Homo sapiens: one gene and its partners. The protein of the gene in region 1 purifies or fractionates together with the protein of each later gene. This does not show direct contact. Each region holds a gene or a part of one and is shown on either strand. Other genes may lie near its edges. The genes, in order: ACAD9, TIMMDC1, NDUFS3 and POF1B.

What was found.
Region 2: the proteins of ACAD9 (region 1) and TIMMDC1 purify together in Homo sapiens (affinity purification with mass spectrometry; 5 studies listed by BioGRID and IntAct, with this or other methods). This does not show direct contact.
Region 3: the proteins of ACAD9 (region 1) and NDUFS3 purify together in Homo sapiens (affinity purification with mass spectrometry; 4 studies listed by BioGRID and IntAct, with this or other methods). This does not show direct contact.
Region 4: the proteins of ACAD9 (region 1) and POF1B purify together in Homo sapiens (affinity purification with mass spectrometry; 2 studies listed by BioGRID and IntAct, with this or other methods). This does not show direct contact.

What each region holds. Positions count from the first base shown.
Region 1 is NC_000003.12:128,875,604-128,884,112, reverse strand, and holds the start of ACAD9 (complex I assembly factor ACAD9, mitochondrial), read right to left. Parts: upstream 4,494-8,509; 5' UTR 4,422-4,493; coding exon 4,272-4,421; exon of another isoform or gene 4,096-4,271; intron 4,023-4,095; exon of another isoform or gene 4,002-4,022; intron 1-4,001. UniProt on the Homo sapiens protein: As part of the MCIA complex, primarily participates in the assembly of the mitochondrial complex I and therefore plays a role in oxidative phosphorylation.
Region 2 is NC_000003.12:119,500,496-119,509,820, reverse strand, and holds part of TIMMDC1 (complex I assembly factor TIMMDC1, mitochondrial isoform 1 precursor), read right to left. Parts: intron 9,127-9,325; coding exon 8,961-9,126; intron 6,290-8,960; coding exon 6,201-6,289; intron 5,868-6,200; coding exon 5,800-5,867; intron 1-5,799.
Region 3 is NC_000011.10:47,581,227-47,586,540, reverse strand, and holds the end of NDUFS3 (NADH dehydrogenase [ubiquinone] iron-sulfur protein 3, mitochondrial precursor), read right to left. Parts: intron 4,454-5,314; coding exon 4,328-4,453; intron 4,193-4,327; coding exon 4,073-4,192; intron 2,228-4,072; coding exon 2,060-2,227; 3' UTR 1,979-2,059; downstream 1-1,978. UniProt on the Homo sapiens protein: Core subunit of the mitochondrial membrane respiratory chain NADH dehydrogenase (Complex I) which catalyzes electron transfer from NADH through the respiratory chain, using ubiquinone as an electron acceptor.
Region 4 is NC_000023.11:85,298,148-85,307,472, forward strand, and holds part of POF1B (protein POF1B), read right to left. Parts: intron 9,130-9,325; coding exon 9,016-9,129; intron 8,187-9,015; coding exon 8,034-8,186; intron 7,764-8,033; coding exon 7,644-7,763; intron 6,325-7,643; coding exon 6,196-6,324; intron 5,342-6,195; coding exon 5,259-5,341; intron 1-5,258. UniProt on the Homo sapiens protein: Plays a key role in the organization of epithelial monolayers by regulating the actin cytoskeleton. May be involved in ovary development.

The DNA of each region.
Region 1 (8,509 bases):
ATGCTTACCAAGTCTCATCGATCCCTACAGCCGCTGTCTCTCCTGCTCACAGACATCTGCTCCCTGTGCTGAGCCCCTCTGGACTTTTGGGCTCTGCTACCCCTTCAATTGCCAGCATGACATGAGCTTTGGATGTGGGCTTCAGGCTGTTGAGCAGTGATGTCCTGAGTCAGAGCTATAAGCCCAAGCATCACCTGTCCTCATGGCGCCTCTCACCAAGTGTTCTAGAGAAGTCTTGGGGAGACCTCAACCTTCTCCTCAGACCTTGTACAGCTAATCAGCCAACAGATTTCTCTACTCTATCAATATGCTCGCACTGCTTTCTCCTCTCTGGGCCCAGGACCACAGGCTTATAGGTGAGTCCCTAACTAAAAGTGACAGCCAACTTAAAGGAATCCCTGCCTCCATCCATTCCAAAACCACCCTGAAGGTGGTATAGAAAAAAAAAAAGGTTGGAGGCCAGGCACGGTGGCTCACGCCTGTAATCCCAGCACTTTGGGAGGCCGAGGCGGGCGGATCACGAGGTCAGGAGTTTGAGACCAGCCTGACCAACATGGTGAAACCCCGTTTCTACTAAAAATACAAAAATTACACGGGCTTGGTAGCACGCGCCTGTAATCCCAGCTACTCAGGAGGCTGAGGCAGGAGAATTGCTTGAACCCGGGAGGTGGAGGTTGCAGTGAGCCGAGATTGCGCCATTGCACTCCAGCCTAGGTGACAGAGTGAGACTCCATAAAAAAAAAAGAAAAGAAAAAGAAAAAAACAAGCTTAGCTGGTTGCAGTGGCTACTGCCTGTAATCCTAGTCCTTTGGGAAGCTGACGCAGGGGGATTGCTTAAAGCCCAGGAGTTCAAAACCAGCCTGGGCGTGGTTGCACACGCCTGTAGTTCCAGCTACTCAGGAGGCTGAGGTGGGAGGATCCCCTGAGCCTGGGGAGGTTGAGGCTGCAGTGAGCTGTGATTGCACCACTGCACTCCAGGGTGGGCAACAGAGTAAGACACTGTCTCAAGGAAAAAAAAAACAAGAAAAAAAAAAAAAAACAAGCTGATGGCTCCATCACTCTGCAGCCTTTTATATCAAAGCTCAGTCTCCTTCACTGAACACAGAGGCTCACTGACACTTGGGTCTTGTGCAATGGGCTGTGTTAGAGATCATTCTGGTACCAGTGGGCAGGCCAGATAAGACTGCCTGGCAACTAATTGGCCTTCAGGTACAACCACAGAAAACCTGCCACACAGGAGAGATTGCAGGGGCGTGGGAGAAAGATCCTGATGTTATCAAATCAGGTCAATGCCTTAGGGGAGGAGAGTTCAATTGCAATAAACAGTTTGTAAATTATCTAAAAAAGTGGAACCTGTTATTCAAAGAAATCTAGTGCAGAAACCAAATATGTAAAACAGACAGAAGCAGGCGGCTCTGACTGAGACTGCTGATAGGGAAAACAGGCACCCAAATCCCACCCACTCAACTTCCCACCCATCCCTGCAGCAGTTCCAGGACACTCCATGAATAGCTTGGGTCCAGCTTAGGGCAGGGTGACAACCACTGGCCTACACAATCTGAGATTCTAAGCATCATGTCCCATGTTTCTGCTCTAATCCCAGTAAGGCTGTGAGAGATGACACTGGCCTGATCCAAAGTAGCAGCAGAAGGGCCTAAAAGTGGTCAGATTCTAAGAACCTAAAAGTAGAGAAAACCAGATCTTCTGTGGAATTAGAAGTGGACTAGGAGAATAAGAGTACAAGGTGACTCCAGGTGTTCTGTTTGAACAGGTGGAACAACAGAGCCACCATTATCTATGATAAAGAAGGCTGGTGGAAGGAGCAGGATTGGGTGGGAACCAGGAACTCAGTTTGGGATCTATTAATCTCAAATGCCTGTTAGACCTCTTAGTACAGCTTTTGAGTACAAAGGTAGATTAAAAAAAGAATCTTGGCTGGGTGTGGCAGGGCGTGCCTGTAGTCCCAGCTACTGGGGATGCTGAAGTGGGAGGATCTATTGAGCCTTAGGAGTTCAAGGTTGCAGTGAGCTATGATGGCACCACTGCACTCCAGCACAGGTGACAGAGAAAGCCCCCAACTCTGAAAAAGCAAAAGGAATCTGGAGTTCAGGGAGAAATCTGAACTGAAGAAAGAAACTTGAGGCATCAGGATATTGATGATATTTAAAGCCAGGACACTAAATAAGGTCACCCAGCAGATGGCTGTAGATGAAACGAGACCCAGCCTTAGTAAATTCCAACTTGGCTAGTTGGAAACACTGGTCACTGTTTAGCGGTCAAGGAGCTGAATAAGAACCAGCAATGGACACAGAGAAGTATCAGCCAGTGAAGTATTTAGAACATTCAGAGAATGGCGAGAACAGTGATTCAGAAACCAGAGACGAAAGTGCGTCAACAGGGTGGAAGGATGAACGGTGTCAGATGCCAATGATGGGTCAAGTAGGATGAGGTCTGAGAACAGATCACACAATTTGATAACAGAGAGGTCATTACTGACTTCTATGGCCATTAGGGACAAATGCCTGAATGGTAAGGGCTCAAGATCCAGTAGAGAGAACAGTTAATGATGCAGAGAAAGGAAAGAATTACCCTTGAGTAGGTGAGAAGACCTGGAGTCTAATGAGAGGTTGGTTTTGCCAGGAGCAGACAGTTCACAGTAACAGAATGTAGATAATACCGGCACATATGCAGCGGGAGGGGGTAACTGTGCCTGTGAACTTCTCATCCGACTGCATGGATTTTCCCAGTGGAATGGGAAGCAAAGCTGACAGCTGAGAGTAAAGGCAGGGCAGGGCAGGTAGTGCCAGAGGTTTAAAGATGGAAACAGATCTGAAAGATCTGTGTTCTTTCTTCACCATGCTGCTGGATAGCAGGAAGTCCCAGGATAGAGCACCACACTGCCCCAGGTCCTGGGTAAAAGGTTTTCCAATATGTTCAAGACATAGCTCCGCACTTTCTAGCTGGGCAAACTGCTTTTAGTCTGAGTCTTAGCTTCTTCATCTGTAAAGTTGCTTGCTATAAAGGTATCAGCCTGACAACCTCAGAGGAACGTTCCAAAGAGAAGCCAGGGAATAACTTCTGTGATACAGGATCAGCCAACATTCAGCCAAGTTCAAAGTAGGGCACCTCGACGAAATAGCAAGTATACTGTTGGTTTCCTTAGAAGATAAAATGAAATACAAAGGAAAGAGCAAGAAATGTGTTTATTCCTATTTTGTAGATGAATGCACTGAGGCACAGGGAGGTGCAGCCGTCAGCTCCAAGGTCACAAGACTAAGTGTTGAAGCCAGCTCTCTCTTCTGCTGCACAGTACTCTACAGTTTAAGAAGACTCTCCATGCACCGTTTATCTCACTGGGGCTCTACAACACATCTGTGAAGGAGACACAACACTATCTCCATTTTAAGGCTGAAAGAACTGAGTCTTGGCCGGGCGCGGTGGCTCACCCCTGTAATCCCAGCACTGTGGGAGGCCGAGGTGGGCGGATCACCCGAGGTCAGTTCTAGACCAGCTTGGCCAACATGGTGAAACCCCGTCTCTGCTAAAAATACAAAAAAAAAAAAAGCCGGGCAGGCGCCTGTAATCCCAGCTACTCCGGAGGCTGAGGCAGGAGAATCGCTTGAACCCAGGAGGGAGGTTGCAGTGAGCACTCCAGCCTGGGCGACAAGAGCGCGACTCTGTCTCAAAAAAAACAACTGAGTTTCAAAGTCAACGAGCCAAGACCAAACCCAAGTCTTCCAACTCTAAGAAGACAATGAGTGTTTTATAACCAAACTGTTACTATTGGCTGGGTTGTGCCACCCTTGGGAAGCATCTTGGAGCCAGATTTCTGAGGAACCTCAATGGCAGGGAGAGGCGCTGGGCTCACCTGGGGAAGGAAGCCCCAGGGCGCTGGAAGGTGACTGAGGAGGGACATGGTGTAAGCTGTTTAGGAATCAGAGAGGAAGCCCCGCACATTTCCAGACCAGACCAGCTGAGATGAAGGCTGCTTTGTTAATTACCTAGCCTAGAGTTTTCCGAATTCCCCTGACAAAATTTAGCTGGAACACGTCACCACCACATTTCCAAGGGTCCCCCGTCTTGGAAATGTCTCACCCTTTCTCTGGGAAGGTTTTCCTGGAACTCAGGAATCCGGAGTGTTAACACGCCTCGGCCGCAGGGTGTATCTCTCTGGCAGGTTTGGGGAATCTCACAAAGTTCAACACCAGTCTTGCAGCTGAGGGTGAAAAGCGGGAGCCAGACAGCAAGGGTTCGCCCAGGGCTCGCGTTACCTTCTTGATTTTGCCTAGGAAAAGCTCTTTGGCGAAAGCTCGTACAGGCGGGCTGGTGCGCAGTAGCCGCCGGTTCGCGGTAGAGACCACCAGACCCCGGCAGGCACGAGCCGCAGCCGTGGTGCGCAGGAAGAGCCCGCAGCCGCTCATGCTGCCCGATGTTCCCCAGCCTCAGCCTCAGTCTCCCCTTCTTAGCGCCGCAGGGACACACACACGTCTGATGACGTTACTGGCCCGCGACAACGTGCAGTACTCACTGCGCTTGCGCGGTCCCCCGCAGCAGGGGATGGAGAGGCCAGAAGGGCGGGAAGGCTACCACCTGCCGCGCCCAAGGCCTTAGTCACGTGCACCTGGCTGGCCCGCGCCGCCTGATGACGTCACACGCCTACGCTTCCCGCCGGCCCCACTGCGCTTGCGCGGCCAAAGGAGCTGGCCGGAGGAAATTGTAGGCCCTGGGCCGCGGGCATCTCGGCGGGTATAATCTCTGGCCGTCGTGACGGCGGTGACGGACCTGTTTTTCACATACCAGCGGTTGTTTCCATAAATGCCAGCCATGGGAAATCTCCCTGTGTACAGAAACCTAAAGGCCGGCTCAGCTGCCTCCACTTGTCTCTTTTGTCACTTGTGGCCACGAGGCCGTGGTAAAACTTGAGAAAAGCAAAAGAATGAGGGAAATGCGCTGTATTGGGGTCTCTGCAGGGGCACGGTAAGGGTAAGGGTCCATTTTTAACTGGATGGTGGATTCCTGAGATACTGTTTTGTTCCTAGTTGACATGTATGTTACATATATTTTTTGGAAAAGGAAAAGAAAGTGGGTGTTCAGTCACAGAGCGGTCTGGATACAACTGAGTCACCTCTGTCCTGGGAAACACTAACTTAAAAGGCAGGCGGAGGAAGAGAAACTACAGAGAGAGCTGAGAAGAGATGGGAACTATTGGATGGGATGGGACAGGCCAGGCTGTAACCGCCCAAGGTTACAGCCCGCTGACTAGACAGCTGATTTATCAAGACGGAAATTGCAATAGAGAGAGAGTAATTCACGCAGAGCCGGGTGTGTTGGAAAGGGAGTTTTATTAGCCAAATCGGTCTCCCCAAAAACGGATCGGAATTTTTAAGGATAATTTGGCGAGTAGAAGCTCGGGAAGTGGGAGGTGCATGATTGGTCGGGTTGGAGATGGACTGATAGGGGGCCGAAGTGAGTTTTTCTTGCTGTCTTCTGTTCCTGAATGGGATTGCAGAACTAGTTGAGCCAGATTACCAGTCTGGGTGTTGGTAGGTTTTACAACAGTGATGTTATTCCCAGGAACAATTTGGGGGACGTTCAGACTCTTGCAACCAAAGGCTGTATGGCCTCTAAACTGTAATTTCTAATCTTATAGCTAATTTGTTAGTCCTCCAAAGGCCAACTGGTCCCAGGCAAGAAGAGGTTGTTTTTTGTTGTTGTTGTTGTTGTTTTCCCGGGAAAGGGCTATTTTTGTTTTGAAGTTAAACTATAAACTCATTCCTTCCCAAGGTTAGTTCAGCCTACGCTCAGGAATGAACAAGGACAGCTTGGAGGTTAGAAGCAAGATGGAGTTGGTTAGGTCAGATCTCTTTCATTGTCTCGGTTATAATTTTGCAGTGGCGGTTTCAAGGCCAGGCCATAGGGGCCCACGTAGGAGGCAGGGCATGCCTGGCACCTCACAGCCCAACAGTGCTCTGAACGTGGCACATGGGCCCTCTACAGATCTTCAGCCAGCTCCTCCAGGAAGAATGCCACTCTGCTTTTTCACCCAGACCGGTAATCTGGCTCAACAAGTTTTGCAATCCCACCTAGGAACAGAAGACAGCAAGAAAAACTCACTTCAACCCCCTATCATTCCATCTCCAACCCAACCAGTCAGCACTCCCCACTTCCCGAGCTCCTACTCGCCAAATTATCCTTAAAAACTCCGATCCCTGTTTTGGGGGAGACTTGCTTGTTCCCCGACTGTAGCATTGACCACAGTGTTGGGAAATGCCTCCAGCTTCCATTGTGTCAACTCCTTGAGAAGAAAAAGAAATCCCTTTCATCTCAGCAAGCTAAGCTCAGCACCAAAAAAGATTACATTGCTAACACAACATCAAGAAAAAAGAGCTCAAAACTCTGCAAGGCGTAGAGTCTAAACTGCAAAATATTTGCAGGCATCTTTTCAGATTATTTTACCTTGTCTAAGGTCTCTCACCTGGTTTCTTCATCAGTGGTTGATATTTACTTGCTTAGCATTCAGCTTCACAAGAAGGTATTTGGAAACAACTGCCTTTGTAAATTATCCCCATAGGTAAAACAAAGAAAAATATACATATGTTGCAAAAACTGTTTCAATTTTGAGCTGCTGTACTTTTTTGCCAAACAAATGTAGTCAAATCAGTCAAGTACTCTGTTAATGTGTCAAATGTTTAGTGTACACAGGTCTCCCTAAATCAACCAAATGAGAAATCCAGTGGCACAGAATTTTACAAAACAAAAATTAGAAAAATGTTAAGGCATAGTTTCTAATTGCTCCAATAGAGTATAGCAGAAGAGTTTTGCTGTTTCACTACTATACTAGTTTCTAAATTCAGTTTCCTCATCTGTAAATATGAGTATGATACCCTTTATCTCACAGGACTTTTAAAAGGTTTAAGTAAATCCACATGAAAGCACTTAGCACAGCAAGTGATAAAAATGACAATAGTTACACTTTGATCCTTCCATCTTATATTTAAGTATTAGCCTCTGAGAAATATGATGTTGTTTTAAACAGTTTCCCCTGTTCAGTGTACTAAAAGAAAAACTTCAGCTGAATTAAATTTAAAGGAGCTTAATTGGCCGGGTCGGGTGCAGTGCCTCATACCTGTAATCCCAGCACTTTGGGAGGATGAAGTGGGCAGATCACTTGAGGTCAGGAGTTCGAGACCAGCCTGGCCAACATTGTGAAACCCTGTCTCTACCAAAAATACAAAAATTACTGGGCATGGTGGTGAGTGCCTCTAATCCCAGCCACTCGGTAGGCTGAGGCATGAGAATCACTTGAACCCGGGAGGTGGAGGTTGCAGTGAGCCAAGATTGCACCACTGCACTCCATCCTGGACGACAGAGCAAGACTCTGTCTCAAAAGAAAAAAAGTTTAATTGAGCAATCGATTCAAATCAGGCAGCTTTCTGAGCCAGAGCAAGCTCAGACACTCCAGCACAGCCATGTAATGGAAGATTTATGGACAGCAAAGGAAAGTGAGGTACAGAAACAGCTGGATTGGTTACAGCTCTGCCTTGCCTTATTTGAACATGGTTTGAACAGTTGGCTACATTTGATTGGCAAAAACTCTGTGATTGGCACAAGTATAGGCTACGGTCTGTTTATGCCTCCACTTATAGTTCACAATGTGCAGAAAACCTATAAGCCGAACTTAAAATATATAAGGAAGCAGCTTTAGGCTAAACTTGATTTAACAACTGTTTAAAATATCCTCATGGTAGTTCTGAATGTCTCCTCACATCAATACAACTGATTCACAACATAACTTAACAGAAAGTGAACATTCTTTAGCCATAATGTTAGTGTTAGCATAGCAGAATCCTTGACTCTGGGTATGAGGAACATTGAGTAGAAACTACTGCTTGATCCCTTACTATTAAAGCTGAGGCTGAGATTGGACTGATTATTTTACAAGCCAAAGACCACCAAACCATCAAAAGGTAGGAGAAAGGCTTTCCTGCAGATGCTGCTGCAAAGACCTGCCCCTTCCACCTTACACCACCATCCCCAAGGGCCTAGAGGCCTCTGCCTAGAGCTGGGGGAAGAGGAGACTGCGAAGAACGATCCCATCTTTTAAAAACCGGACAGAAATCACGGATTCCTTCCACTTACATTCCCTTGGGAAGAACTTAATTTGGGGGCAGGGGCTAGGAAAGGGAGTGCCTGGGCAGAAACGGTTTTGACAAGCGTTCGTATCAGGACAATTTGGGAAAACCCAGGTGAGTGATTACTGAGTGACCCTCGACTCCGGTGTTTTGACACCAAAATGTGCAAGGCTTCCTCTCTGATTCTTAAACATCTCAGGCCATGCCGCTCCCATGTCACCCTCTAGTGGCCTGTGGGCTTCCTTGCCAGCTGAGCCCTAGCCCTACCCCCGCCTTTGAGGTTCCGCAGAAATCTAGCTGCAGGGTGACTTCCACAGGTCTCACAACCCAGCCAATAGTAACAGCTAGGTTATTAAACACACCATCCTCTTAGAGGT
Region 2 (9,325 bases), 9.4 Mb from region 1:
CCAGCTACTCAGGAGGCTGAGGCAGGAGAATCCCTTGAACCCGGAAGGTGGAGGTTGCAGCGAGCCGAGATCGCACCACTGCACTCCAGCCTGAGCGACAGAGCAAGATTCCGTCTCAAAAAAAAAAAAAAAAATTTAGTTGCATTGCTATATAATCATCACCAAAATCCAATTTTTAAATGATTCCATCATTACAAAAAGATCCCCCACGCCCATTTGTGGTTACTCCTGGTTCCCAATCTCACCTCAATCCACTAATGTACTTTCTAACTCTACAGATCTGCTTATTCTGGACATTTCATATGAATAGAATTATACAATATGAAGTCTTTTGTGTCTAGCTTTTTTCACTTAATGTTTTTGAGTTTTATTCATGTCGCAGCATGTATCAGTTTTTTACTGATGAAAATATTCAAGTGAATGGACATATCATATTTTATTTATCCATTCACTAGTTGATGAATTTATGGGTTCAGTTTGAGGCTGTCGAGAATAACACCACTATAAAAATTTATATATAAGTCTTTGCGTGGACATGTTTTCATTTATCTTGGGCAGATTCTAAGACATGGAATTGCTGAGTTGCACAGTAAATTATACTTAACTTTTTTTTTTGAGATGGAGTCTCACTCTGTAGCCCAGGCTGGAGTGCAGTGGCGCGATCTCAGCTCACTGCAAGCTCTGCCTCCCAGGTTCACGCCATTTTCCTGCCTCAGCCTCCCAAGTAGCCGGGATTACAGATGTGCACCACCATGCCCAGCTAATTTTCGTATTTTTAGTGGAGGCGAGGTTTCACCATGTTGGCCAGGCTGGTCTCAAACTCCCAACCTCAAGAGATCTGCCTGCCTCAGCCTCCCAAATCGCTGGGATTACAGGCATAAGCCACCACACCTGGCCTTCCAATGGTTTTCTTAATTCATTTGGATTTTCTACTTGCAAGATGTTGTGGTTACCCTCCAGAGACAATAAACTCCCCCACCCAAAATTTGAATCAGATATTGAAATGCCAAAGTACCAAGAGGTACTAAGAGGATACCAAAAGGTTTATTACACATATAATAAGGCTTTCCAGGGAGAGCAAGGCAAGATCCCAAGCATGTCCCAAAATGACTTGAGAACCTGAAGGCTGACTGACTGGCTTGTGGTTTTAGAAGGTGGGGCTAGAGCAAGAGCTCCCTCATGTAGGCCTGAGCTTGCATGGTTGAAACTTCCTGCTGGTGTCAACCAAGGTAGCACTTGGGCTTTCTTATCAGCTTGTCAAGATGTGGGGCAAAAAGGAAAGGGAGACTTCCAGTTTCTGGTATGGCATGTGAGAAGTTTAGAGTTTATCACTTATTCCTAACAACAAGTAAAAAGCTAAACAAATGGAAAAACTGACAACTCTTCTTAGATCCACCAAAGAAGTGAGATCATGGGTAAACTGCTGCCCTCAAAATAGGAGAGACAGACAGATAAATACAGAGAATCACACCTTATTAGAGCAGAAACCCACGAGCAGAAGCCTCCATGGAAACCAGTACCAGAGTAGGAAACCTTGACTATAAATGATAAATTGCTGGAAGTTCAGTGTAGAAAAGTCTAAGACCTAAAAACTGTAGGGGAGCCAATCATAGAGGGTCCCCACACTCCAGGAGCTCTACCAAGTTCTCCCAGTAAAGATCTGAGAAAAATCCCCTCAGGCTTCTGGCAAGGGGGAAGAAAAGTAACCATTTTGAAATATGCCAGAACATTCCGTTATTCTCACTAAGGCCTGCCCTCAAGATAAATGGTTTTGCACAGCCCAAACTATTGGGGTTTTGTCAGAGATTAACCAGCCTGGGGAATATCCAAATGCAACTGCTCTAGCCTCCCATGTGGGAGAAAGGAAATACCCATTCCAACCCACTGTAGTATCCTGTCCCACCAAAGGAGAGGAAAAAAACTGAAAAGCACTTGTGAAGTTAACAGTTCAGAAGCACAGGCTCACTAAAAGACTAAGAACCTAATCATAGGACTGCAAAACACTTTCCCTCTCCCACATCTTAATACCAAATTACTAAAGACCTATTTACCATAATTCCTTTTTTACCCAGGTACATCATGTCCAGCTATCAAGAAAAAAAATTACAAGGCATCCTAAAAGGCAAAAGCAGTTTGAAGAGACCAAGTAAAACTAAGAGAGTAAGCACCAAAACCAGACTCAGATATGGTGGGGATACTGGACTTACCATATGAAGAGATTAAAGCAACTATGACTAATACACTAAGGGCTCTAATGGATAAAGTAGATAGCATGCAAGAATAGATGGGCAATATAAGCAGAGAGATGGAAATTCGAAGAGAGAATCAAAAAGAAATGCTAGCGATAAAACAAATTTAAAAACCCACTGTAACAGAACTGAAGAATAGTAGACTGGACACAGCTGAGGAAAGAATCCCTGAGCTTGAAGACATTATCAACAGACACTTCCCAAACCGAAAGACAAAGAGAAAAAAGATGGGAACCTCCTCCACCAAAAACAAACAAACAAACAAACACAGAATAAAATATCCAAGAACTGTGAAACAATTACAAAAGGTATAAGTGTACTAGAACACCAGAAGGAGAAGAGAAAGCTAAAGAAATCTTTGAAACAATCACTGAGAATTTATCCTAAATTAAGTCAGACAACAAACCACAGATCCAGAAAGTTCAGAAAACACCAAGCACAGTAAATGTTCCTCAAAATTACACCTGGGCATATCATTTTCAAACTGCAGAAAATCAAAGATAAAGAAAAAAACAGTGAAGTATGTGAACACAAGGGAAAGACAGCTAAATAGAACTAAACATGGCTAGGGAGAAAATGGCTAGGGAGAACTCTCTAGGGAAGCTGAGGCTGACAAATGATCTGGACTTTGAAAGGTAAGGTTAAGTAGGAGCCGAACAAAATTAATTGTGGTAGTGGGAAAGTGCATTCAAGAAGAGGGACTGATTCACAAAAGGAAAGAACATGTTGGGAAATCCGAGGAGATTGTAAAGTGAAAGCAAAAGAGTGGCGCATGGAAGCCAGATCAAGAATTGACATTAAAGTGACAGGAAACTATAGAAGAATTTCAAACAGAAAAGTGGCAAAATCATATTCATATTTCAAAAATGTAACTAGGTTACAGGTAGAGCACATCAAGATTAGAAACAGGGACGATAAGATAGTAGCAGTGGGAAAAAAGAAGTGAAAGAATCCATATATATTTAATGAGTATAATTAATAGGACAAGAAGTGGAAAGAGAAAAAAGAGCAGAACCATATCATTCCTTGGTTTCTAGTTTTTTTTTTTTTTTTGAGACAGGGTCTCGCTCTGTCGCCCAGGCTGGAATGAGGTGGCATGATCACACCTCACTGTAGCCTCGACCTCCTGGGCTCATGCCATCCTCCCACCTCAGCCTCCTGAGTAGCTGAGCCTACAGGCATGAATCACCATGCCCAGATAACTTTTTGCACACACACGGTCTTGCCATGTTTGTTGCCCAGGCTGTTCTCAAACTCCTATACTCAAGCGATCTGCCCACCTTGGCCTCCCAAAGTGCTGGTTACAGGCGTGAGCCACTGTGCCTGGCCTGGTTTTCACATTTAACAATTGACAGAGAACGTAACAGCAGGAGCAAGTAAGGAAGTAAAAGTGGGTAGACAAGACCCATGTAAAAATGCTTGCAAATTTAAAAATGAAACAATCTGGCTGCTCTAACGCTATTAATGCCTATTTCTAGTTTTGTATTTTAAAAAGTTTTCATTAAAATGTTGTTTGAGGATCAGGAAAAACAACTAAGATACTAGGCTTAATACTTGGGTGATGAAAGAATCTGTATAGCAAATCTCCATGACACGCGTTTACCTAAGTAACAAACTTACACATCCTGTACATGTACCCCTGAAGTTAAAAGTTAAAAAAAAAAGTTCAAATTGTGTGTTTTCCCATGTGTGTACACATATACACAGAGAAGAGGGAGAGTGCATGCAGTAGCAAGAAGATAAAGCAAGTTGTCTGACTTAATTTCGGATAAATTCTCAGCATGAATTGTTAACAATGGCTAAGTCTCTGTATGTGAAGGATAGAGACTGCCCTTTGTATTATTTTTATTTTGCAATCTTTTGTAAGCTTATTCCCAAAAAAACATTTAAAAACTGTTATGTTCAGGCCGGGCGTGGTAGCTTACGCCTGTAATCCCAGCACTCTGAGAGGCCGAGATGGGCGGATCACCTGAGGTCGGGAGTTCGAGACCAGCCTGACCAACATGGAGAAACCCCTTCTCTGCTAAAAATACAAAAAATTAGCTGGGAATGGTGGCGCATGCCTGTAATCCCAGCTACTAGGGAGGCTGAGGCAGGAGAGAATCCCTTGAACCTGGGAGGCGGAGGTTGTGGTGAGCTGAGATCGCGCCATTGTACTCCAGCCTGGGCAACAAGAGCAAAACTCCATCTCAAAAAAAAAAACAAAAACAAACTTATGTTCAGAATACATATGTGTGTTGTACATAAAAGAATGTACACAAGTTAGTGATTGAGTGTATATAGCAGTTAACTTACCTTTCTGAAACGAATGCTCATTTTAAAATTATTTTTTAAATCTGACAAGTAAAAATTGTACACATATGGTGTATAACATGTTTTGCAGTATGTATATATTGGGGAATGGCTAAATTAAGCTAATTAACCTACACGTTACTTCACATACTATTTTTTGTGGTGAGAACACTTAAAATCTACTTTTTTTTTTTTTTTTTGAGACAAGAGTTTCACTCTTGTTGCCCAGGTTGGAGTGCAATGGCGTGAACTCAGCTCACTGCAACCTCTGCCTCCTGGGTTCAAGTGATTCTCCTGCCTCAGCCTCCCAAGTAGCTGGGATTACAGGCACCTGCCACCACACCCAGCTAATTTTTGTATTTTTAGTAGAGACGGGGTTTCACCATGTTAGCCAGGCTGGTCTCAAATCACCTCTGATGATCCACCTGCCTTGGCCTCCCAAAGTGCTGGGATTACAGGTGTGAGCCACCGCTTGGCCAAAATCTACTTTTTAAAAGCAATTTTGAAGTATACAATACACTGTTAGTAACCATAGTTACCATGTTTTAAATAGATCTCTTGAACTTATTCCTCCTGTCTAAATGAAATTTTGTATCCTTTGACCAACATCTTTTCCAACCCCATATCCAGTCTCTGGTAATCACCATTGTACCTTCTATTTTTAATGCTCATTAAAAAGAAAATATACATATATATACTAGAGGCAGAGAGCTTTAAAATAAAATCCAAGTTCTTACCATAAAAAATCTAGTCCATTCCTATAGTCCTCACCAATCTCATCTCAAGCTACTCTTTCCCTCACTCACCACGTTATTATCCTGCTTTTAAGGAAATGTTTTGCCTTAGAGCCTTCCCCCTTGATGTTCCCTCTATTTAGGACACCCTTCCTTGCAAGTCTTGCTCCTTCCTATTCTTTGGTATCAGCTCAAATGTCACTTCCTCAGAAAGGCCTTCTTTGACTACCCTGTCCATATGAGATCCCATTGTTCCACCGAATTGTTACTTTCTATCACAACAACCTGTATTATCACATACATATTAGACATTAAAATTCAAAGAAAGCAAGGGCCTTGCTGTTTTGCCCATTGAGTATATCAAGGGTGAAGCACAACACTGTCCATAAATACATTTTGCATCAATGTTGATGAGATGTAATGGGAAGCCAACCAAAGAATTCAGTAGTTCTGATGTATAAGTCCTTACACATTTTCTAAACTGTATTTGAGAAGACTGAAAAATATAAACAAAAATGTCTTACCTCCTGCAATTACAAAATGGCTTAAGGCATCTTTATTTCGGTATACATTCAGACTAGTGTTCACTGTGCTGGTAAAAAGGGAGGAGAAGGAAAATATAAGATTTAAAGCATATCCCATTTACCTTCTTGAGTGTTATTTTCACTGACTTAATAGATTTAGAAAAGCCTACTATATCAATCCCTGTTCCTAGCCTAGGCCCCTTCAATGTGTTCCAGACATGGTTGTAAAACCATAACTACACCAGTCTTTTACACAGAGAAAAGTTCTTGAAAAAAAAAAAAAGGCATTATTAATCACTTTCATGTGGGTATTCAGTTTTCATAACCCCACCTGCTCAAAAGACACACTCCTAAAACAATATCAAGAAAATTCACTATCTCACAATTCAGAGTGAACTTACTTGAATATAGTCACAAACACTGCAGTTCTCCAACCCCAGCGCCAGCCATAACGAATGAAGCCTCGTGTGGCAGCACGATGTGCAGATTGCTAAAGTTAATTAAAAAACTGTGAGGTTCTAAGACACCATCATATTTTCCTTATTCTAGAACTGCGGTAGAGGAATTTTAGCTATGGATTAGTCAGGTACACCCAAACAGATAGAAATACTAGAAAATCTCTAGAAATACTATTCTTTAAGTATTGAGGCTTACGTAAAAGTTCCATGTGTAGCCTATCCTATCAGGAGATGAAAAAATGGTTGAGTATCCCTTATCTGATACTTGAGACCAGATCCCTTATCTGATACTTGGATTTAGGATTTTTTCAGATTTGGGAATATGCGCTTTTAACACTTACTGGTTGAGCATCCCAAATCCAAAAAACCGAAATCTGAAATGCTCCAATGAGCAATTCCTTTGAATGACGTGTCAATGCTCAAAAAGTTTTGAATCTGAGCATTCAGGATTTCAGATTTGTGCTGCTCAACCTGTAATGAATTATAAATCTACAGAATAAAATAAGAATCCATGAGTCCCTACTGATAGAAATAAATTATAAATAGATAAATAAATATGTAAATAGAGGGGGGAAGGGAAAACACTTCCTTAGAGCATAATACTAACCAATAAATGTAGAAAGAATGATAGACTTTAGAAAATGCCCATTTGGCCACCACAGTCATAATTGTTACAGGAAGAATCATCATTAAATGCTAAAACTGCCTGGGTATGGTGGCTCACACCTGTAATCTCAGCACTTTGGGAGGCAACTAGGGAGGATCACTTGAGCCGACAAGTTTAAGACCAGCCTGGGCAACATAGCGAGATCCTGCCTTTACAAAAAAAATTTAAGAATTAGCTAGGCATGGTGGTGTGTGTTTGCAGTCCTAGCTACTCGGAAGGCTGAGGCGGGAGGAAACCTTGAGTCCAGAAGTTTGAGGTTGTGGTGAGCTATGATCGCGCCGCTGCACTCCAGCCTGCACTGAGGCAGGAAGACCCTGCCTCAAAAAATTTCAAAAAAAAAATTAATTAATTAAAAAATAAAAATAGGCTGGGCACAGTGGCTCACACCTATAATCCCAACCCTTTGGGAGGCCAAGGAGGGGGTGAACTGCTTGAGCTGAGGACTCTGAGACCAGCCTGGGCAACATGGCAAAACCCTGTCTCTACAAAAAATACAAAAATTAGCTGGGAATGGTGGCACATGCCTATAGTCCCAGCTACTTGGGAGGCTGAGACAGGAGAATCGAGTGAGCCTGGGAAATGGAGGTTGCAGCAAGCCAAGATTGTGCCACTGTACTCCAGCCTGGGCAACAGAGTGAGACCCTGTCTCAAAAAATAAATAAAGGAATAAATAATTTTTAAAAAAATAAAAAAATTATAAATGCTAAGAATTTAGAATAGTTTTTAGATAGTAGAAATATTATAGTTTATAATAGCATTTAAGTAGTAGAAATTTGATGAAAAGCAGGATATTTACATAGTCTCAAAGGAACTAACAAGTACTCAAAATACTTATAAATTACCAAGGAAAAACATAGTAATTTTACAGTGTATAGTTGGCAGAGGCCATCTTAAGCAAGTCACTGAAGTAAACATCACCAGTAAAGGGACAGAGATATCATGGGTTTCTAATTTAATTTCAGTTCTAGGGTATTCCTGTCAAAAAACATAGTCTGAATGCAGTCATGAGAAACCATCAAACAAACCCAAATTGAGGGACATTCTACAAAATAAATCACCCATAGTCAAGGCCATGAAAGACAAAAACAGAGAAACTCTTCCAGACTAAATGAGACCAAAGCAGCATAACAGGCAAATTCAACATGTGATCCAGGGTCAGATTCTGGACCAGACAAAAAAAAATTTAATTAATTAATTTTTTAATAAGAACTCAAGCCTAACTTCTGAAAAATACATTTTTTTATTTATTTTTAAAATAAATGATACTGTGGGATAACTAGCAAAATTTACAGGTCTTTAAATAAGATAATAGTACTATATCTGTGTTAATTTCCTGATCTTGATATTATAATTGTGGTTGTATAAGAGAATTTCCTTGTTTTTAGGAAATAACACACTGAAGTATTCATCATGTCTATAACCTACTGTCAAGTAGCTCAGAACAAATTAGTACATATTATACAGAGGGAGAATGATAAAACAAACATGGTAAAATGTTAACAATGGAGAATCCGGATGAAAGGTATATAGGAAATCTTTGTACTAGTTTTGCAACTTTCAAGCCTGCTATAATTTCAAAATAAAAAGTTAAAAATTCTCTGAGCTTTAATATTCTCACAAAAGAACTGATGTACAGATCTAATGATGTAACAAACGAGTTAGCACTCTATAAAGTTATAAATGTTAACTATTGCTTTAGTGTGAGCTCCTATACTCATGGAGGCTTTGTGAATGAGGTAAATATGTTACAGCTGAGCCTTGACGATTTAGCAGGGGATTGGAAGAAATGTATTTGAGAAAGAAAAGCCACAGTGGTGATGCCAAACATGCCTGTTCTGAAGATAACAAAGTAGTCTCTCAAACAACATGCAGGCACTTTAACATTAGTACTTCCACTGTTATTAAGTACAGACTTTATTTCTTTACTCTGACACCTTAAAACAACCCTCCATCCCCACAACCTAATTGAATGATTAAGTGTAAAGTGAATTACTAAGTCAGTGTGCCCCAAATTTCTTTAGATCACCAGTACATACCACAGCATCAAACCGGTTATGATAAATTTCTGCCTGGCTCTGCTCAATGTATTGTTGTTTAGCATGAATAAAAGCTGGTATTCCCCCATACACCCAGCCAATGATGCCTGCTGTAGCTGCCGTCTTACAGATATTAGCAAGGTCCTTTGAAATTCTCTGCTGTTCACTACAACATCAAAAAGACAATGTTGTTTGGGATTAGTTTATGGACATTGCTCTCCAAGAGACTCTATAATCAGAATTAACCCAAATGCTACCACCACAACATTTTTCATCATAGGTAGAATTCTCAGATGAATTAAACAGTTCAGTTATATTAAAAGGAACGTAGTCTCAGACAAAACGAAGCTATGGTGTTAGAATTA
Region 3 (5,314 bases), on another chromosome or scaffold:
GCTCCCTGCTTGTCAGGCCCTCAGCCTGTTCCTGCCCAGCTGGGCGGTATGCTTAGTTAATAGGAAAAAGGTGTTTGGTAGCAAATAGCTGTAGCTTGGCCCTCCCAAAGGGTAGGAAAGAGCTCAGGCAGTAAGACCATCTTACTGTCTGCGCCCTCAAAATATCCTGCGACTGAGGCCAGCCCCGACACCCAGTCTGGCCCAGCCCAGCCTCCAAGGAGCCCCTCAGCTGCCAAAAGCATCAGCTGCAAAGTCTTCCAACTGCATGGTGGGCTGGCTGGGCGGCCCCACAGACAGGCAGAGCCAAGCACTCCCCTCTCAGGCACTCTGCCGCAGGCTGGACAGACAGATCAGCTGGGCTAGGGCGTATTGTCCCCTGGCAGACAGACAAATCTGCAGCTCCTGAGTGGTTTTTGCCCCAGCCCTGGGACCTCTTGTTTCCTAGCAACATTCTTAATTCAGAGCGGGCACGGTGGCTCATGCCTGTAATCCCAGCACTTTAGGAGGGCAAGACAGGAGGATGGCTTGAGCCCAGGAGTTCAAGACCAGCCTGGGCAACATGGTGAGCCCTCATCTCTACAAATAAATTAGCTGGGTATGGTGGTACACACCTGTGGTCCTAGCTACTCAGGAGGCTGAGGTGGGAGGATCACCTGAGCCCAGGCAGTCTAGACTGCAGTGAACCACGATCACACTGCTGTACTCACTCTAGCCTAGGTGACAGACCAAGACCCTGTCTCAAAAAACCCCCACCAGCCTGGCGCGGTGGCTCACGCCTGTAATCCCAGCACTCTGGGAGGCCGAGGCGGGCAGATCACCTGAGGTCGGGAGTTTGAGACCAGCCTGACCAACATGGAGAAACCCCATCTCTACTAAAAATACAAAATTGGCCGGGCGTGGTGGCGCAAGCCTGTAATCCCAGCTACTCGGGAGGCTGAGGCAGAGTTGCTTGAACCCGGGAGGCGGCGGTCACAGTGAACCAAGATCATGCCATTGCACTCCAGCCTGTGCAACAATAGCAAAACTCCATCTCAAAAAAAAAAAAAAAAGAAGAAGAAAAAAAGAACCCCACCATTCTCAGCTCAGGCCAGAAACCAGGGAGATTCCTGTAGCCCAAGAGTGATTGGCTACCATGCCACACCCATCCTGAACCCTGTGGACTGTGAGAACTTTCAGTTACAGCTCCAGAATCCCTCTCAGAAATACATCCATGCCTGCAGGCCACCACGTCTGCAACTACACTCTTTAGTCCCATTAAAATAGACCTCCGGCTGAGTGTGGTGGCTCACGCCTATAATCCCAGCACTTTGGGAGGCCAGTGTGGATCATTTGAGGCCAGGAGTTCGAGACCAGCCTGGGCAACATGGTGAAATCCCATCTCTACAAAAACTATAAAAACTAGCTGGGCGTGGTGGCGTGCATCTGTAATCCCAGCTTCTTGGGAGGCTGAGGGGGGAGAACCGCTTGGGCCTGGGAGGTGGAGGTTGCAGCGAGCTGCGACAGCACCACTGCACTCCAGCCTGGGTGACAGAGCGAGACTCCATCTCAAAAAAACATAAAAGAGCTGGTCACAGTGGCTCACGCCTATAATTCCAGCACTTTGGGAGGCCGAAGCAGACAGATCACCTGAGGTCAGGAGTTCAAGAACAGCCTGACCAATATGGAGAAACCCCGTCTTTACTAAAAATACAAAATTAGCCAGGTGTGGTGGCACACACCTGTAATCCCAGCTACTCGGGAGGCTGAGGCAAGAGAATTACTTGAACCCAGGAGGCGGAGGTTGTGGTGAGCCGAGATCACGCCATTGTACTCCAGCCTCGGCAACAAGAGCGAAACACTGTCTCAAAAAAAAAAAAAAAAACCCATCAAAGACTCCCTGGTTTAGTAGTGCCTCTCTAAGAGAGCAGGGAAACACCCCTGCCTGCCTGTGTCCCCCCCAAAGCATCACTTCTCCACATTACAAGCACACACAAAGTGGTAAGTCTAAGTAGGAATTTATTTACACGGACACTCAATCATAGATAAGGCGCTGTCTAGGATCCACATGCGTTCCCTGGAGCTACTTGGCATCAGGCTTCTTGTCTCCGGCTTCAAGCTTGAGACTCTCCGGGGGTTGGCGATAGACTGGGAAAGCCTCCCAGGGGCTGTTCAGGTCAAATTTGCGGAACTCTTGGGCCAACTCCACCGGCTCTGCCACCACCCGCTTCACTTCATCATCATAACGTAACTGCAGGAGCAAAAGGCAGGCTTGAGCACTAAGGAAGTCCTTATTATAGCTACACAGGAGCCTACTTTTCACAAGGCTATTGGTGACTTCCCCAGCCCATTCCTCTCGGTTACTGACTCCTGTCCCAGCCTCTGTCAGTAAGTCTCCATCCATACCTGTGTTACCCGTCAGATCACATCCCAACCAGCTAGAGTGTGTGATTCCAAAATGTAGGATACCTCTCATGCCCTGCCAGCACCAGTCAGATTCCCCTGCTCACCACTCCCACATCAGGAGCTCCGAACTGACTGCTCACCCACCCACACACTCTTACAAGGTAATGGTAAGCATTTGCCCAGGATTAGGGAGTAGTCGGTGGCTGAAAAGAGTAAACCTAAACTGGCAGATACACAACCTCAGGCCCGGTGCCCTTGGCATATTCACAGTCCAGATCTAAAGCAGTACATTTGACACAGCTTTTCTTGTTACTTGGGGATCAAATGGATAAGGTAAGGATCATCAGGTGCTAGAGTGAAGAGGCAAACCAGGTGAGGCAGATAGCAGGAGTGGGGTGAAAGGGAGAAGCGAGGGAGATAGCCCTGCCCAGAAGTAGCCCAAGAGGGAAATAGGAGCATGCAAAGCACTAACACAGCAGGAGTGACTGGGAACTAAAAGAGCAGGGCTGGAGCACCACATCTCTGCATTTCTAAACAGTTACTTTGCTATAAAATTCACGAGTGATAATATTACACACTATCTTCCTGCAAATAACCTGCAGCACCACTGAAATTCTTTATTCACGTTACTGGTCCCACCTCAGAGGTAATTTTTGAGGGCTAAGCATCTGGTGTCTTCCCCGTCACTGCCTTCCCAGAGAGTCAGGGCAGGGTAAAATAATCCTCTACTTTCAGGTTTTAGGGACAGACTGTGTCGTCAAGGCTGCCTTGATCATTAAAATGATCATTACAATAATGGATAACACTGGCCAGGTGTGGTGGCTCACACCTGTAATCCCAGCACTTTTGAGAAGCTGAGGCGGGCAGATGACTTGAGCCCAGGAATTCGAGACCAGTTTGGGCAACATGGAGAAACCCCGTCTCTACAAAAAATACAAAAATTTGCTGGGCATGTTGGTGCATGCCTGTAGTCCCAGCTACTCGGAGGGCTGAGAGGTGGGAGGATTACTTGAGCCTGGGCGGTCAAGACTGCAGTGAGCCATGATCGCACCACTGCACTCCATCCTAGGTGACAAGAGTGAGACCCTGACACACACACACACACACAGCATCAATTGAGCCTTTACAATACAGCAGGCTTCATACATCATTTATTTATTTAGAGACAGGGTCTCACTCTGTTGCCCAGGCTGGAGAGCAGTGGCGTGATCTCGGCTCACTGCAACCTCCGCCTTCTAGGCTCAAGCGATCCTCCCACCTCAGCCTCTTGAGCAGCCAGGACCACAGGAATGCACCACCATGCCCCGTTAATTTTTCTATTTTTTTGTAGAGAAGAGGTTTCACCATGTTGCCTAGGCTGTTCTCGAACTCCTGGACTCAAGCACTCCTCCTGTCTTGGCTTCCCAAAGTGCTGGGATTACAGGCGTGAGCCTACACATACATTATTTAATGCCAGCCACAAATCTATTAAAGTGCTATTATTATTGCCATTTTAAGATGAGAAAACTGAGTTACAGTCAAACCAAGTAACTTGCCCCAGGTTACAAAAATGAAGCTAGGATCTGAATCCAGGGCCCATGCTCTTAAACCACCACAATCCACAGACCGTATTTCTTGCCATTCCCAGGGATCCCCTGGGTTCTCTGCAAGTCCCTCCCTGAGGCTGCTGTCCCAGTTCCAAGGCTCCTACCTCAACATAGCCAGATAGAGGAAAGTCTTTCCGGAAAGGATGTCCCTCGAAGCCATAATCTGTCAGGATCCTTCTTAGATCAGGGTGGTTAGCAAAGAAGACTCCAAACATGTCCCAGATCTAGGAAAGAGACCACCTCAAACAGCCAATCCATCAAGACTAACAACAGGGGGAAGGGGCTACACTGCATCCCGTAGTCTGAACCAGTTCTGCAACTGTGGCCCAGAGGCAGGTCCACCATATCCGGTAACTCACCTCCCTTTCATACCAGTTGGCTGCCTTGAACACAGAGACAGCAGACTCAATGGGCGTCAGCTCATCTGTGTAGGTCTTCACACGGATCCGTGAGTTGAAGCGCAGAGACAACAGGTTGTAGACAATCTAGGGAGAACAGAAGGATCTGGAGGGCTGAGATGGGAGTCCCTGATTGGGAGAGTTCTGCCCTGTGACCCTGCCTTCTATTCTGAACCTCAAAACCTCAAGATTCTCCTATGCTTACAACTACTTCCAAAGGCCCAGGCCACAGCTGTAGCTTAGCATGTCAGCATGCCTGTGTTTGCTCATGCTATTCACTTTGTCAGGAATATTTCCCTGGTCCATCTCACAAGGCTACCTGGTCTCCTACTCATATTTTAGATTCAGCACAAACATTCTCTCTTTTCAAAGAAGCCTCCCAGACAGGGCCAAGTGCCCCTCCTGCTTTCTTAAAGCATCCCTCTAATATCCTTTGTATTATATGTTACTACAGTAAGCTGTTTAGGTGTCTTTCTCCTTCACTAGAGTGTAGGGGACTCCTGGAGGACAAATACTTCATGTTATTTCTCTCTCCATCCCAGAGTCTGGCAAACAGTAGATAATCAGTAAAATATTAATAGCTAAATGTATTGAAAACACTGTGTGCAAGCAATTTACTTGAACTATCTCATTGGATCCTTATAACCATTCTATAAGATAAGGACAGCTTTATATTTATTTTCCCGGTAAGAAAATGAAAGCTCAGAAAGATTAAACAAGGGCCGGGCATGGTGGCTCATGCCTGTAATCCCAGCACTTTGGGAGGCCAAGGCAGGCAGATCACGAGGTCAGGAAATTGAGACCATCCTGGCCAACATGGTGAAACCCAGTCTTCACTAAAAAAATACAAAAAATTAGCCGGGCGTGGTGGCATGCACCTGTAGTCCCAGCTACTCAAGGGGCTGAGGCAGGGGAATCGCTTGAACCTGGGAGACGGAGGTTGCAGTG
Region 4 (9,325 bases), on another chromosome or scaffold:
GTGTGAACACAGTTGCAGAATCAGCCAGGCAAGAGCCTTGTAGGGATTGTGGACAGGAAGACATGCAGAACAGATGTGTCCAGAGAGCCTTGGGGGAATGGGTGCCTATGGCCACATTTTGTTGCAGCTGTTCCACATGTAAAACCCCCTGGGGTCCTTGCAGGCTAGAGCTCTGTCTTTGTCTATTCTTTGGGCAGATCCTCCTGACAATTGAAATGACTGCAAGAGTCGTGAGATCTCTTGTAGCTAGGATGCCAGAGGTACATGGTGAAAGTGGGTTGCCCTGCTGTCACTTCACTCACCCATTCCTTAGGAGGTGTTCAGGACCAGGAACTAATCCTGGTGCTTGGCACACCAATGCAGTTTTCCCAGCTTTCTCCCTATTCAGCCTTAGTATCTGTGTTACCTATCAAATCTCAGTGTTTTCTCTCCAAAGATCTGTTTGAAGTACAAACAGATAGTGGAGAATTTGCTGGTTTGTTTATTAGATATTTTGGTCTTTTGTGGTGGGAGAAGTACTTCCTGGATGTGTCTACTTGGCCATCTTGTCCCTCTCTCCAGAAACTACTTTCAAAGAGGACCAGATGGTGTATTTAGAAGATAAAGACTTCAAAGTAGCTATAATAAATATGTTTATAGGGCTGGGCTCAGTGGCTCATGCCTGTAACCCCAACACTTTGAGAGGTCATCATGGGATGATTGCTTGAGACCAGGAATTTGAGGCCAGCCTGGGCAACATAGTGAGAATACAAAGAACTAAAAAAAAAACCATGCTTAAGGAAGCAATGGAAGACGATGTCAGTGAAAATATACAACAACCTCCAGAAATGCTCTATGCCATAAAAGAAAAAGGAAATCTGGCCAAAAAAAATCAAAATTAACTTTATCAGGACTCTCAAAATTAATAAACTTTTACAGCCATCAGAGAGCATTTATTTAGGAAAAACAGCTAAATCAGCAAGATTTGTGGCATTTGAAATTGTTCTATTCTCATCTCTGTCTCTCCAACTATGCAATAGAATTTTAAAACAATCTTTTTTTTTCTTTTTTTTTTTTTTTTTTGAGACGGAGTCTTGCTCAGTCACCCAGGCTGTAGTGCAGTGGTGCGATCTTGGCTCACTGCAAGCTCCACCTCCTGTTTTCTTTTTTTTTTTTTTTTGAGACGGAGTCTCGCTCTGTCGCCCAGGCTGGAGTGCAGTGGCTCGATCTCGGCTCACTGCAAGCTCCGCCTCCCGGGTTCACGCCATTCTCCTGCCTCAGCCTCCCGAGTAGCTGGGACTACAGGCGCCCGCTACCACGCCTGGCTAATTTTTTGTATTTTTAGTAGAGACCGGGTTTCACCGTGTTAGCCAGGATGGTCTCGATCTCCTGACCTCGTGATCCGCCCGCCTCGGCCTCCCAAAGTGCTGGGATTACAGGCGTGAGCCACCGCGCCCAGCCTCCACCTCCTGTTTTCACACCATTCTCCTACCTCAGCCTCCCGAGTAGCTGGGACTACAGGTGCCCGCCACCACGCCTGGCTAATTTTTTTTTTGTATTTTTAGTAGAGACGGGGTTTCACCATGTTAGCCAGGATGGTCTCAATCTCCTGACCTCGTGATCCATCCACCTCGGCCTCCCAAAGTGCTGGGATTACAGGCGTGAGCCACCGCGCCCGACCCTTAAAACAATCTGGGTAAAACCCAGGAGCCTGGCAGCAACTAGAAGACAAAACAAGGTTAGAGCTCCTTCAAAGCCACATTGTCGTTATAATTGTCATTGTTTGATTTGTCTGTTGATTCTGTGGAAAACTCCACTTGCAAGGATGCCTTTTAAAACTTGACTCGTAGCTCAACCAATTTGCAAATCCTTTTTCCTGGGAACATTTGTCGAAAATAATGTGTGGAAATTGTTTAATATCACAACTACCTGAGGTGGCTATAATAGTTCAGGCAGACAAGAAATTGACCAAAAATGATAAAAGGAAAAACTGAGAAATAAATTGTCCATAGTGGGCTTTGAAAATTTGTTATATGTTCCTGGGAATCTAGAAAGCCACAGGCATGTGTAGGGCTTTGTACATGCCCAAGGCTGTACGCATGTGAAGGAAAGACCTGAGAAAATCCTGAGCCCTCAGTACTGGCTAACCTTAAAACTCTGTGTAAGCAGGAACTGGGGGCTAAGGACGAGCTATAAATTGCCTACCAGAACATTGAAGAGGTGTCCAAACACAGACAAAGAGCCTCTCAGTGAAAACTAGGAGACTTACTAGTTTCATGTTTGTAACGAAACCTCTGTTTAAATGTTAACTGACCACTAAGATAAATGAGCAGAGACTTCAGTGACCACATATGAAAAGAATACAGACTTTATAGAATTAAATCAGAAAAGCCACTAAGCAAAAGACAATAACATCAACAGCAAATAATAGCAACAATGAACACCTTGGCAGGAGGGAGTATCTAATTTCCAGAGTTACCACATTATATTATTTTCAATGTCACGTTTTCAATAAAAAATTATAAGACATGCAAAGAAACAAGAAAATATTGCCTATCATGGAAAAAATCACTTGAAACTATCCATTAAGAAGCCAGATGTTGCATTTACATAGCCTTTAAATTGGCTATTTTAAGTATGCTCAAAGAACTAAAGAACTAAAGGAAAGGATGAGAGTTGTGGCTTATGGAATAAAGAACATTATTAAAGAAAGAGAAATTACTTTTAAGAGAAACTACAGTAATTCTGAGGTAAAAAAGATAATAACTAGATTTAAATTTCTCAACAGCCGATGTAAGCAAATGGAAGAAAGAATCAACAAATTGCAAAGAAGGTCCGTTGAGTTTATCTATTCTGAGGAACAGAAAGAAAAAAGAATGAAGAAAAATAAACAGAGCCTCAGAACATTCTGTTCTGTTTATGGGGACTCCACAAGGAGAGGGAGGAAAGTGGCAGGAATGATAGCTGAAGAAATGTCTGAAAACTTCCCAGATTTGATTAAAAATATCAATCTGCACATCAAAGAAGCTCAGCAAATGCCAAATAGTGAAAAATAAGAGATCCAAACCTTGACACATAATAATCAAACAGTCAAGGGCCATAGAAAAAAATAATCTTGAAAGCAGTAAAAAAGAAACATGTCAGGGGGATCCTCAATTAAAAATTATCAACTGATTTCTCATCAGAAATTATAGAGGCCAGAAGGCAATGGGATGACATATTCCAAGTAACAAAAAAACACTGTCAGCTGAGAATTATTTTATCCAGCAAAACCATTCTTCAAAAATGAAGGAAAAGCAATATATTCCCATACAAGCAAAAACCCAAAGAATTTGTCACTGCAAAACCTGTTCTACAAGAAATACTAAAGGGAGTCCTACAAGAAATACTAAAGGAGTCCTTCAGGCTGAAATTTAAGGACTCTATACAGCATCCCAAATCCATTTGAAGAAATAAAGATCACCAGTAAAGGTAACTATACAGGTAAATATTAATTAAATTTCTGGGGGAAACCTAAGGGGAAAAACTCAGAAAATATAGTAAAAGTAACTAAAATGGAATTAAAATGTTACTGTAGAAAATATTTTACACAGAAGAAGGCAGGAATGGAGGAACAGAAGAACAAAAAACATAAGACATAGAAACAAATAGCAAAATAGCTAATGTAAATTCTAACTTATGAATTACATTAAATGTAAGTGCATTAAATATTCCAGCTAAAAGCAGAGATTGGCAGAATGTATAAAAAGATACAACCATGTGTGGTTTACAAGAGTCACAGTTTAGAATCAAATACACAAATAGGTCAAAAATGAAAGGACAGAAAAAGATATTTCATACAATTAGTAACCAGAAGACAGTTTATATTAATATAAGACAAAATACTTATGAATGTAAAATTTATGATCTTGGGTTAGTCAACAGTTTCTTGTATATAATACCAAAAGCACAAGCAAGAAAAAATATAGATGAATTGGATTTTTTTCTATATTAAATACTTATGCTGCATATTATACTCTCAAGATAGTGAAAAGACAACCCATGGAATTGATGAAAATATTTGCAAATCTTGTCTCTGATAAGGGACTTGTGAACATGTGAAAATCTCTTGCAATTCAACTATAAAAAGACAACTCACTTAAAAAATGGAAAAAAATTGAATGGACATTTCTTCAAACAAGATGTATAAATGGCCAATAAGCACATAAAAATTGCTAAAAAACATTAGTTATTAGGGAATACAAATCAAAACTCCAATTGGATACCACTTTCCACCACCTAGGATGGCCATAATCCAAGAGATGAACAATAACAAATGGCAACGAGGATGGGGAGAAAGTGGAACCGTCATACACTACTAGGAATGTATGATGGTGCTTTTGCTTTAGAAAACAGTATGGCAATTCCTTAAGCATAGAGTTATCATGTGACCTATCAATTCCACTCCTAGGTATATACTCAAAAGAAATGAATACATGTACCTTACACACTTGTACACAGACGTTCACAGCAGCATTATTCACAATAGCCAAAAATTGAAAACAACCCAAATGTCCAACTGATTAATCAATAAATAAAATGTATATCCATACAACTGGATATTATTTAGCAACCAAAAGGAATGAAGTCTTGACTCATGCTAAATCATGCTTGCATCCTGCAAACATTATGCAAAATGAAAAATCCAGACACAAAAGACTATATGTTGTATTATTTCATTTATATGAAATATCCAAAATAGACTTCTGCTGAAGCTATTCATAATTACTTTATATTTGGTTTTGCTAAATGGCTGGAATGTAATTTGTGGTCATATTGCTACCGTGAGGGTAGACCTTACCTGATTAAGATGTCTACACAGGAAAGAGCAGAGCCAAGATATAAAGAAAGACATATTTATAAAGGCATATTTTGAACACACAAATCCATCTGGATACCAAGTAACCCCATTTAAGTGAATTTAAAAAGTCCCAGTTTACATTGGGTCTCTTGTCACATGAAACAGAAAGAGTCCTAACTAATGTGGTTGGTTAAAAAAACAATTATTTGTTTTTCACTTCCAAGGTAATTAATATATTGTAAATTCAGGAAAGATGTGCTTCAGGATTTTTTTGACCACAATAGTGATGTCTTTTTGTGAATATTCATTCTTCAGTAGAATAACTGGCCAGCAGAAAACACCAAACTCTGTCTAGCTTGTATATACCAATTAAACATGAAATAACTTGGATTATATGATCATAATTTTTATATTCAAATTTCATTTAAAAATACATTACTTTTTAGTGGTAATAGTAGTCCTTCCACCAGTGGAGGGTTGGTTATGAGAGGAATATATTTCTTGCCGCAACTTGGAGAGTTCCTTACAAATAAAAGATAATATAATCATTTGATGGAAAGTAGAAACATGAGATAATAAATATATTTAATCATTTAGAAGGGTTACTAACAATGATTATACCCCCTCCCTTTTACCCCTTTTTAGCCTTGACGTAATAATGTTCTAATCCCACTTGTTGAATATCACCTAGTGTTGCTTCACAGTACCTAATAAGTTATATTATATGCCGGTGCAGGAACCTGCAACTGATACAGGATATCTAAATTTGGAGGATAACTTGAGATTGAATGGGCGTGGTTCTCAGGATGAGGATGTGAAAGTTTTTGCTCTGAAAAGCCTGAAAAGTATATCCATAGAAGAAAAGTATTGAAACTTCAATATATAAGCAGATATAGTTTCTTAAGAGAGAGTTTATCAATGAATGTTACTACAAGCACCATTTGCTCCATAACAGCAATACAATATTACCCATAATTTTTGACAATTCCTTCAGTACCTATTGAATGCCAGGTCATGGGCTACATGCTACAGATACAAGGAGGAATATAACACATGCTTTAATGAAGCAGCTCATAATGTAGTAAGGAGGTCACAGTCTACTGGGAATTTCACTGCTAATGAAATATAAAATCAATGTCTTAAAAATATTAAATGTATAACAGCACTTATTTTTTGCTTCAATTGTAACTTTCATTTGAATTGTGTCTCCTGAAATATGTATATTCTACTTCCTCACTTGCACCTACATTTTATTTCATTAAATAAAGTGACTCTTGGATATGTGTCCTTTTCTAGTCCATGGGAAGTATTTATCCTACAGTACTACAGTACTAAGTTGTATTACTTTTCTCCATCCCCACCCCTTCCTTTTATACCTCTGACTGACGCTTTATGAGGGAATCCTTCTCTTCCAGCAAGCTTGTCAGTTCATGAAGCTTAAATTGGAAGTCACTACAACTTCCTTCTCTCTTTGAAACATCTTTATGGTACTGGTTTAATTGGGACTAAGGATTTAAAAAGAAATAAATATTATTATAATCTTCATATAGAAAATGTGTAACTGAGTTCCAGGGAGGTTAAGTGACACAAACTCACACAGTTATGAAATGAAAGTAAAATACCAATAGTCATAAACGTTCGAAGAATTTCATGAGTATGTAATATGAAATGAAATGCCAATTACAAATTTCTCCTTTTTTTAAGGTGTCTTTGCTATGTAGGACTAAACATTATCTACGTAACAGTCTTAGGCCACAAAATTTAAAGTAAAGCTAAGAAAACAGGCACTTTAGAGTCCTTGAAATAATAATTAAGGAAATAGCAATAACAAATTACTACTATTATATTCTGATTTTCAGTTCACAAAATATTCCTCCTGCATGAATTATCTCAGTTCTCACAGCAGTCCCATGAAATAAGCATTATTATAATCTTCATTTACAAAACAGATAATGGGCTCCAGAGAGGTTAAATGACACAGTCACGCAGTAACATAGCTGCAACTCCAAAACAGGTCTTCTGACTACAAATCTTGTCCATTTCCCTCTTTACCTCATATGTGTGTAGCTTAGGTAGAAGTGCTGTTAGTAATGTTGGAATGGAAAAGAAATCAGTGGAGGAAATCTGCTAGAAGTATTGGTAGGTTTGGAAAACAAATTATATTTTGTTTCATTTTGATTTTTGGTAAAAATTATACAGTGATGTTTGGAGAGACAAATTTGTGATTATTTTGTTTATTAAAATATTTAAGTATATTTTACTACCTTTAGGAATCAGTAAAATAAGGGTTAGATTAAGTAAATTCAACCTAGAATTACAAGTTAAGGCAATATATACTTATAAATATCACCTTAATTTTGATGTCAACTATAGGTACCTAAAACTTAACACTGTTTTCCTCCTCATGCTTGACAAAGTCCTTGCTATTCATCATCCCTCGAAATTAAGTGAGAATTTTTACAAATCTAACTATGGCTCTGTTGAGTAATTTCATATATTGCTTTTGCCTACATAAGCATGCTTTAGGCAAGATCATGAAGAGTCCTCCATCTATCCCAAAAAATAAATTAATAAAAACCAAAACCAAACCACTGAAATGAATATCTTCTTTTACTTTCCTAGAAGAAATTAAGCTAAATTAGAAAATCATTTAACAGTTATATTTTAGATACAGTAATGTATTTAAAACAAATGAATACATGACATATTTCTAAAACTCTACCTTCAGCTAATTTTTTCTGGTAGCTTTAAACTTGAAGCCATCATTATCTTGCTAGAAAGTTTGTGCTGACCTGTGTATTTATGCAATGTAGGATCAACATACCCTCAGTCTGCAGATCTCTCTATCTTTCTCCATTCTCAAGTTTTTTACCATCTCCGTGTAGTGGTTGCCAATCTCATCCATTTTAGCCTGCAACATTGGGCCTGTGCAAGTCTCAGAAACCTACAGAAGGCAAAATAACTATCTGTAATTGGATTGTTTTGAAGAAAATACATGTTATGTTACAAGGATTGTTATTAGATGAAAACCACATGATTAAATAAGACATTGAAATAATGAAAGTGATTTTCAGGAACTGCATTATAAAGCTCAAATGTCAGTGATTAAGATCTAACAGTATGTGAGGGAAAGCAGTCCATATGTTTTCTAAATGCTAGGATTACAATGATGTAACTAAGGTAATACTGTATATTTAAAAGGAAGTTTTAATACCTGCATTCTAAGGTTTTGATTCTCTTGCTCTAAATTACGTTTACAATATTCCAGTTCTTTTAGTCTGTATTCCATGTCTGATAGTGTATGTCGAAGAGAGAGATTGTTTTCTTCCAATGCCTGGCATTTTGAACTTGAGTCTTGAAGTCCTTGCTGTAAAGAAGACACAAGTACATAAGACAAATGCATTTTGTTTTTGGTGAGGGAGTGTTCTTTTTATTGATTCATTCAATTGAATCAAGTAAATATTTTCCTATGCCCAGTTTTCTTATACTCTGGGTCTTAGATGGTACATTAAGTCACCCATGTAAGATATTATAGTGTTGCCTCTAGTCTCACTCATCTATTTTGTGAGAGAGGGAATCATGACTAGATGAATTTATAATGTCTCAATTTAACAATCAGACTCTTGCTACTCTGTGACAATACTGTACCCTGCTTTCTAGTAGGCACAGAAACGACCATATGCCTGATTATTTACATGACAACTAGTAACTGAGCAAGAATTTGGGACAGCCATAGGAGTAAAGATCAGGAAGAGGGTAATCCTTAGAGACTACTTACAATTTCCTAGGAATTCTCTCTGCTCAGACATCCAGAGAATTCATCTAGAGTTTTTTCAGTCATTTATTTATTGCACAAACATGTATTAAGGTCTACAACAGCTTTTCTCATTGACATGTTAGTACATTAAATAAATGCATGAACCTAGATTTTTAGTATTTCTACAATTCTGGTCACCCAACAAGACAAATAATTGTGTCCCATATGTACTTTATATCTAAAATAGATAAGATTATCTGTTTTTCTGAGAGGGCTTTCAGCCATTAGAAATACCCAAAGCCACTCAATTCTCATATGAACAAATTTTTCCATCATATTTAATTCTGTCTTGATTATATCTCATAACTCCAATGTGCCAGTAATTGTGCATATGAAAAGCTATCAATGTAGATTAACACCAATAAAAGCATCAGTTTACCTGCTGCTGGTGATTATTTGCTCTCACTGATGCCAAGAGTTCTTCGTACTCTTTTAATTGAGTGTCTTTGAATGATAAATCTTTCTCAAGTCTCATCTTGTCATTTTCCAGTGACTAGAAGCATAAATTATTTATTATGATTCAGAATTGCAAAAACTTAACAGTCACATAATACAAAGACTTGCTTACCTTGGAAGATTTAAATAAGCACTTGTTTCATTTGTACTTGCTTAATAAAGCAGAATTCTTAAAAGTTAAGAAAATACGGGATAGGAAATGATTGAAACTTCTAAAACCTTCATTGAAAGAG